Linked DNA regions of Homo sapiens: all the other regions are linked to region 2. Evidence: fine-mapped expression QTL. A gene starts in region 2. Each other region holds a variant in brackets. All regions are shown on one strand. Distances are from middle to middle. Region 1 overlaps LOC105371552 (a long non-coding RNA gene). Region 2 holds the start of CCDC144A (coiled-coil domain containing 144A). Region 3 has its middle 5.1 kb from the start of FAM106C.

The links. PIP is the estimated chance that this variant, and not a neighbour inherited with it, causes the effect. A credible set is the group of variants that fine-mapping cannot tell apart.
Region 1: its variant is the best candidate, but not a certain one, in a credible set for the expression of CCDC144A in subcutaneous fat (GTEx, PIP 0.87).
Region 3: its variant is the best candidate, but not a certain one, in a credible set for the expression of CCDC144A in tibial artery (GTEx, PIP 0.64).

What each region holds. Positions count from the first base shown.
Region 1 is chr17:16,823,626-16,826,382 of GRCh38, forward strand. It overlaps LOC105371552 (a long non-coding RNA gene), which reads left to right. Exons shown (of 3, transcript XR_934251.1): 2 at 347-576. Among named protein-coding and RNA genes, the nearest start is that of FAM106C, 36 kb to the left of the region's middle. The variant T/C (reference allele first, on the strand shown) is at 1,744.
Region 2 is chr17:16,688,503-16,691,259 of GRCh38, forward strand. It overlaps CCDC144A (coiled-coil domain containing 144A), which reads left to right and starts at 1,739. Exons shown (of 17, transcript NM_001382000.1): 1 at 1,739-2,242. The coding sequence starts at 1,899. RefSeq lists an enhancer at 729-1,632.
Region 3 is chr17:16,792,600-16,795,356 of GRCh38, forward strand. It overlaps the pseudogene USP32P1. Among named protein-coding and RNA genes, the nearest start is that of FAM106C, 5.1 kb to the left of the region's middle. The variant A/G (reference allele first, on the strand shown) is at 1,146.

The DNA.
Region 1 (2,757 bases), 140 kb after region 2:
GGTGCCCTCGTTTGAGCCCCTTGTGGAACTGGCCCAGGAGATGTTCTGGGGAGGAGTAGAGGCTGGAGTGGTGCCAGGCTGTGCCAAGGGCAAGGCTGAAGTGGACACGAGGGTCCCTGACTCCTGAAGCCCCAAGGGTCAGGGGACATTTTTAGGAGTCCACTTGGTCCTGCTTTGGAGGTGTGTATATCAAAAGTTCAGCAATCTCCCAGACAACCTCCCAAAGCAAACCCTTCCGGCCCCCACCCCACCCTCCCATCAGCCCCTGGGCTCCACAGACCCCAGCAGGCATGTTGGGAGGAATGTGGTCGTGTCTGGGGCTGCCTGACACGTCCTATCTCCTCAGACAGGCCCCAACAGCCCCTGCTGGAGGCTCCACTGCTCTTCCTGGGATCAACTGTTCCTAGAAGAGAAGCAGGACCTCTCTCACCCCACCCCCAACCTTGACTGTCACCAAAGAAGAAGCCAGAGAGGGGAGCCCCCCACTACTGTGGCCTAGGAGCTTGGAAGACAATACTGAGACAGACACCTGTGCTGTGGGCTCCCCAAATCTGCCAGCAAAGGACTCTCGAGGATGTGAGTAAGCCAGGGCCCCACCCCGCTCCACCCACCCCTGACAGACACTCCTAATCTCCCTGCAGAGAATGGTCCCCCCACCCTGACCCAGTCCTACAATTTCCCCAGAGAGAGGCAACAGGGGTTTTGGCTGAGGGGCAGATGCTTTTGTTGGGAGGCATGTTGCTGTTGGCTGTGGGGCAAGGGAAGGCTGTGCTCACTGGAGAAAAATGCTGTGTCCAGAGGGATCTGGGAGTGGGAATGGGGTGCAGGGCCCGGTACCTGCTTCCTCTGTGCCCCGCCACCCCCACCCACCACCACCACCGTCTCCTTCTTCTGCAGGGATCAGGAATAGAAGCTCCAGAGCCCAGGACATAGGAACAGCTTTACTTTCCCTTTCATTTGATTCAGTGGAACCCAAAAGAAACTCCTTCCTCCCCCTGCTCCGAGGGGAATCCAAAAGATAAGGATGGCAGGGAACCAATGACAGATCAGTCCATGCACATAATCTTAAAAGGCACTTCTGCAGCCCCATCCCAACCCCACGCACCAACTCCAGAGCTCTAGCATGGAATATAAGCCTGATCCCCCACACCCGTTCTCAGAACCGTGGCCTAACCTGGAGCCTGAGGCCAACCTCTCTTCCCCTGCAGTCAAGGACTCAGTGACCAAGGAGCTGCAAACAGCCCGGCCAAGCAGGGAGCAGACTTAGAGGACACCACACTCCCGTCCCCTCCCTGATGCCAAAGAAGCGTGGTACTCAGACATTTTAAGGGAGGGTATTTTCTGGGTCATCAGGGGTTAAAGGGTTGCCAGTCTTGACAGCTGAGGCCCAGAGTACCCCCCACCTCTGGACTTCTAGGCAGGCTTTGTGTGAGCAGCATTACCTGACCCTCCCTCCAGCCTGCCCCAAAAGGAGGGGGGTAAAGGAGGAGCCCCGGGCAGGACCTCCTGTGGTTAGTGAGTCTCCCTGCACCACCCTACATGGGGGAGCCCCGTGCCAATACTAAAATTATTGTAAATGGATAAAATCCATGGGGTCAAAGAGATCAGGAAAGTAGATTATAGCAATCAAATTTTGGAATCTGGAAAACAAAGACAAAGAAAGCCCAGTGCTTGCCCAGAGAGAAGCCAAGAGGCAAAGCATATTTACACTCTGGAACTTTTTAACTCTGAATTTTTAAGAAC[T/C]CTGGAAAGTCTCTGGAATAGGGGGCACCAGGTACCTCTGACAGTGAGGAACAAGTGAACTAGAAATGGGAGGGTGAGCTAGAGATCTATATAAAAAGCAGAGAGGCGGCCGGGCACGGTGGCTCATGCCTGTAATCCCAGCACTTTGGGAGACCAAGGCGGGTGGATCATGAGGTCAGGAGATCGAGACCGTCTTGGCTAACACGGTGAAACCCCGTCTCTGCTAAAAATACAAGAAAATTAGCCAGGCGTGGTGGCGGGCGCCTGTAGTCTCAGCTATTCGGGAGGCTGAGGCAGGAGAATGGTGTGAACCCGGGAGACAGAGCTTGCAGTGAGCCGAGATGGTGCTACTGCACTCCAGCCTGGGCAACAGAGCGAGACACCATCTCGGGAAAAGAAAAAAAAAAGCAGAGGCCGCTATAGCTCCTCTCTCCCTTCCTTGTCTGAACCCAACCACTCCACGATTACTCCAGGAGAAACTAGATGTTTATGCTTGAGAATTTCCCCAAAGGGACTCTGAATCCTGAGACACCAAGCAGGGCCAATAAACTGCAATCAACTAGTAGCAGAGTAGCTGAGACTGAGACCTTCTCTGCCCCCTTCCCGCACTCAGCTTCCAGAAAGCTGGTAGCTTTTACAATCCAGACAGGGAATTAGAGGTATTCCTTCTGAGGAAGACCCTCCCCAAGAAAAGTCCTACAGATAACTGTCCCCCAACGAAACAGCCTATTCTCCACCAGATTACTCTATACTGAGACCTACCAGTGGCAAGCTCCCATGCTATCCACACACATATACACATATTCCAATCAGTTTCTCAGTGACTTACTCTTAAATATGAACAACTACCAAGGACCACCAGACATCTGAGAAAAGCCTCTGGCATGAAAGATGGAGGCAAGACAAACAGCAAGAAAGGAACTGAGGAAACTGAGCTGATGACAGAAATAGAAGCACTGCTGGAGCCAGGACTAATAGGCTCAAAGAGATCAGAGAAACCATTGCATCTTGAAA
Region 2 (2,757 bases):
TTTTTGAGATGGAGTCTAGCCCTGTCGCCAGGCTGGAGTACAGTGGCATGATCTTGACTCACTGCAACCTCCACCTCCTGGGTTCAAGCGATTCTTTTGTCTCAGCCTCCCGAGTAGCTGGGACTACAGGCACGTGCCAGCACGCCCAACTAATTTTTGTATTTTTAGTAGAGAACAAGGGGTCACCATGTTAGCCAGGATGGTCTTGATCTCTTGACCTCATGATCTACCTGCCTCTGCCTCCCAAAGTGTTGGGATTACAGGTGGGAGCCACTGCGCCCGGCCACAGATATTTTGTAAATGATTGCTTCCTTACGCCTTTCTAGTTCATGTTTTCTTATACATAGTTACATTTCTTCTTTGCTATACTAAAAATCCCTAATTTTAGTTGGTCAGAGAGAGGGATTTGAGACTGAGCTCCCATCTCCTCGGCTGCAGCATCTGATTAAAGCCTTCTTCCTTTGCAATACTCATCTCAGTGATTGGCTTTCTGTGGGTGAGCAGCGCAGGATCTAGGCTGAAGCCCTGAGGCTTCAGTGACAAAATCTGTTTTTCATAATGCTATCTGTCTTAATTGTCCTCAAGAATTAGTATTTGAGTGCTCTCTAGATTCTCCTTTGTCACCCTTCCTTCCTTTCTTTCTTCCTTTCTTCCTTCCTTCTTTCCTTCTCTTTGCTTCGTTCTCTCCTTCCTTCTTTTCTTTCTTTTTTTGAGACGGAGTCTTGCTCTGTCGCCCAGGCTGGAGTTTGGTGGCACGATATCAGCTCACTGCAACGTTCACCTCCCGGGTTCAAGAGATTCTCCTGTCTCAGCCTCTGGAGTAGCTGGGACTACAGGCACGCGCCACCACGCCCAACTAATTTTTGTATTTTTAGTAGAGAGGGTTTCACCATGTTGGCCAGGCTGGCCTCAAACTCCTGACCTCAAGTGATCTGCCCGCCTCAACCTCCCAAAGTGCTGGGATTACAGGTGTGAGCCACCGCGCCTGGCCGTCACTTTTCTTCAATCTCACTGGTGCTCGCGGGCTGAAGGGTCAGGACGGACTAGAGGCGAGCAATCCTGGTGGCACCAGGCGTTCCCCGACCCGCCCGGGTCGCCAGCTGCACGGACCCTGGGCAGATGCGCGCAGCGGCTGCGGCACACGGCGGGGAGCGGCTGCTTGGCCCCATCCTAAGGCAGCAGAATGCCCAGAGCTGGTCCCTGGCTCCAGGCGCAGGCCGAGTAGGAGCTGGGCGGGCAGCGGCGTCGGGCAGGCCCTTCCAGCCGGGCTGACAGGCCGCTCTGACCCAGCCATCTGACTCCGCTTGCGTCCTGGCAGCGCGGACCCTAGGGCAACTTTGCTGCAGTGGCCAAGCCGGGGGCGGAACTGACCCGTACCCCTGAACCGAGCAAGCCTAGGAGCAGGTGCGCCGGCGGCGCTGTGAAGCGGCACTCATGACAGGCAGGCTGGGCACCGCCACCCCGAAACCTCCGAGGGAGGACCAGCCAGCCCAGGTTGGCGCTGGAGCTGCAGCGCCACCTGCAGGCCAAGGAGTCTTTTTCTGGGAGGCTGGAGCTGCAGCGCCACCTGCAGGCCAAGGAGTCTTTTTCTGGGAGGCTGGAGCTGCAGCGCCACCTGCAGGCCAAGGAGTCTTTTTCTGGGAGGCTGGAGCTGCAGATGCAGTGAAGTCACAGGTTCCGTGATGTCACAGGTGGGCAGGCGCACTGGTCTGTAACGGATTGGCTTGGCCTTACCCACGAGGCTTTGCGGTGGCTGTTGGCTTGGCGGTGGTCGCTTGGCTTGGCGTGGCAGTGATCGCTTGGCTTGGCATTTCTGGCTTGGCGGTCCTCCTTTCGCAGATTGGAAACCGCGGGCTATCCTGCTGGGAGGTTGTGGCCGAGGCAGTAGCTCGCTACTGATGGCCTCCTGGGGTGGAGAAAAGCGGGGAGGGGCTGAGGGGTCTCCGAAGCCGGCAGTCTACGCCACGAGGAAGACCCCTAGCGTCGGGAGCCAGGGGGACCAGTGGTACTTGGGCTACCCGGGGGACCAGTGGTCCTCGGGCTTCCCCTACAGCTGGTGGAAAAACAGCGTCGGCAGCGAGAGCAAGCACGGTGAGGGCGCCTTAGACCAGCCCCAGCACGACGTCCGCCTGGAAGATCTTGGCGAGCTCCACAGAGCTGCCCGGTCGGGCGACGTCCCTGGGGTGGAGCACATCTTAGCTCCTGGAGACACTGGCGTGGACAAGAGGGATAGGAAGAAGAGGTAATGGCCAGGCGAAGGATGCGCCGTCCTGTCGGGGACACTGGCTTTCTGGTGCCCGCAGGCCCCACGGCACCCGGGATGGGGAAACGTCAGAGGGGTCAGGGGCCCAGGCCTCTTAGTGAGACGGGATCAAATATAAAGGATTATTACTATTGCAAAAGTGTTGGTCTACTTTACAGGAGTTTTCTTTAAAAATATTGCACTTCCCAACTGTGTTTATCCATTTTCTCAATTTATTCATCAAACATAAGCTGAATACCTATTATACAGCAGACATATTCTACTGTCGCTCAGGTTCCTTCCATCCTTAAGAACTTCATGTTGGCCGAGCTCGGTGGCTCATGCCTGTAATCCCAGCACTTTGGGAGGCCGAGGAGGGCAGATCACGAGGTCAGAAGTTCGAGACCAGGCTGACCAACATGGTGAAACCCCGCCTGTTATGCTTTTGTCTCAGCCTAGACTTAGCTAAGACCTTCATGATAAATTATCCTTTAGGCCCTCGGGGTTCAGTTCAA
Region 3 (2,757 bases), 100 kb after region 2:
TCTACAGAGTTTCCAACCTCAGAGATGAAGCATCCCCTCTGTAAGTCAGAAAGAAATTATTCAAGTAGGAGAATTAAAACAGGATCACAGAGAGGGAAGCTGAAGAATTTGACATTCTGTGTTTACTTGTATGAGGAAAAACAGCACATAGAGGCATCCACAGTAATTAATTTGTTTGGATAACAGTTACAGATAAACAGGTACACCCCATATACAATTACCAATACTTTTTATACAGTTCATATTTCAGTACATCAACACTGTTTTATTTACACTCTATTTATATACATTAACATCTTTTTAAATTGGGATTATTGTCCATATGTTTTATATTTTTTATTCCAGTGATTTCCCTTTTAGGAATTTATCTGAGGGGAGAATACTCTGTAATTACTCCATAATTTGCAGGCAAATATCATCATAGCATTTTTTAGGAGAGTAAAAAGTTATTAACAACTTATATTTGTCTCACATTAGAGGAATGGTTAAATAAAGCATGGTGTATTCATTGGATAAACTATAATGCAGTTGTTGAAAATGATTACCAGGAGTTTTTGCTAACATTTATGGGAACATGCTTATGATATGTGAACATTTTTTTAAAAACAAGACATAAAGTTGCATATACTGGAAATAATACCTTCAATATTGAAAAAAATACTATTTAGGAAAAAGGACAGAAGAAAATCTGCCAAAATTTTGACAGTGGTTGCCTTTGTATTAAGAATATAAAAGGATTCCATGCCTTTTTACATTTTTCTCTGCTTTCCAAAATTTCCACATGAATATTATGCCTAGTAATCAGAAAAAAATACAGGGACACTCACTCTTATCCTTTACATTTCTCTCCTGTTTGGACCTCAGATTCCTCAGTAGAAAATTAAACTAGATGCCAGCCTGGGCAATATGATGTCACCCTGTCTTTACAAAAAATGCACAAATTAGCCAGGTGTGGTGTTGTGCACCTATAGTCCCAGCTGCTTGGGAGGCTGAGGTTGGAGGATTGCTTGAGCCCAAGAGATCAAGGCTGCAGTGAGCTGTGATCTCGCCACTGCACTCCAGCCTGGGTAACAAAGCAAGACCCTGTCTCAAAAAAAAAAAAGAAAAAAAAAGAAAAAAAGAAAATTAAACTAGACAAATTCTTA[A/G]GCCTGTCTCTCTTTTTTTTTTTAATAGTCTTATATGAAGACTATTACTTCATTTCCTGTGTTTTGTGTTAAGATGAGCTTTAAAGCAACTCTGAAAAAGAAGAGGGTGCCTATAAGTAATTCATAGACTGTTTAAACAATAGTAGAGGATCTAAGCATAGATCCCAAGAGGTAAAGGGAATCTTTATCACTTTGGGAACTTTTACTGATAAATAGAAATTACTGTCAGTACAGTCCACAAATATGTTGTTTATCAGCCATCTTTCCTCCCTGTCTTCCTCTAGCACTGTAGCCTGTGTTCCCCAGAAAATATAGTCAATAAAATTCAACATTCTTTACTAGCTTACTCTAATTTGTGGTTGGCCATAAAGTATTCCTGGTAGAGATAATAGAGATAATATTTAACTGGCCATGAGAAAGGAAACACTATCGTATATGATACACCCCTTTTTCTACTCATTCCAACAACGATGATACAGCACGTTTCCTTTTGAAGCACGTGTTTTTTCCTTGAGTGACCAGTTCAAAAGATGATGACAGTTAATATCTTGTTACTACAGAATTTGTACTCAAAAAAGAAGTCTATAACCCAAGTCCAAGCCAGATTTCTTTTTCTAAAAAAAGAATTTTCCTCTAAGTTCCCCTTTTTAAATGAGCTTTTTAGCCTGGATAATTATGCAGTGCTAGAACCTTAACTGCATGATCAAACCCAACCTTGCTTGTTTATAACAGCATTTGACAGCCTCGTGACTCTCACATAGGGAAAAAGTCTCGCCTGAAAACCCATGCTAAGCTGCATGTCTTGAGCTGTGCCAATTTGTATTCCAGGCAGCCTAAGGTTCCCATCGTGAGTTTCAGGAAGGGAAATTCATGGAGGAAGTTCACCTCTGGAAGGGTGAGGAGCAATAAATAGGGTGGGTGATGGACATATGTGACGTTTGCCACAGAGAGGCAGTCAGTATGGGCCTTGTGGTCCGGGCTCTGCTTTGGGACACAAATATAAACTGTGTGAAGTCTTATGGTAGCATTCATAACCCTGATGCTTCACCCACCTTCCCATACATTAGAGGGACAAACAGAAGGATCCCAGCTCTATGGTTCTTGATTGTTTGTCAGGTAGCAGCCAGGCATGGAGAGGGAAAAATTCTTTCTTTTCTGCTGCACTCTAGATCCTTCCTTCTCTCCTCCTTCATTCTACACCACCCCCAACACATATCCCTGCACCCCGCCCATTCTTTGCTCTCTCCTTTCTTACACTTAACTCCTTCTTGCTCCACAGCCTAACATGCTGATTAACAGGACCCCAAAGGTTTGGGTGGGTATTAGGGGCCTTCTCAACAAAAGCAGCACACTCTTGAGCTTGTTCTTCCTTTTGTTGCCATCTCAGATAAAAAGGCCCCATGAGGGAGGAGACAGATAAGTATAGACTTGGTATTCTGATAACTCTGTGTTACATGGGATCAGATGTAAATGAGTTGTACCCTGTGATGTTTCATGCTCTGCTGTGTTGTCTTCTCATGGTGAGCTTTTCTGTGCCCTTATTTCATCCAGCTCTGGTTTCTGTGTTTCATGTTATTTCTCCTAGCCTCTGTAAACTCTGCAGCATACGAAT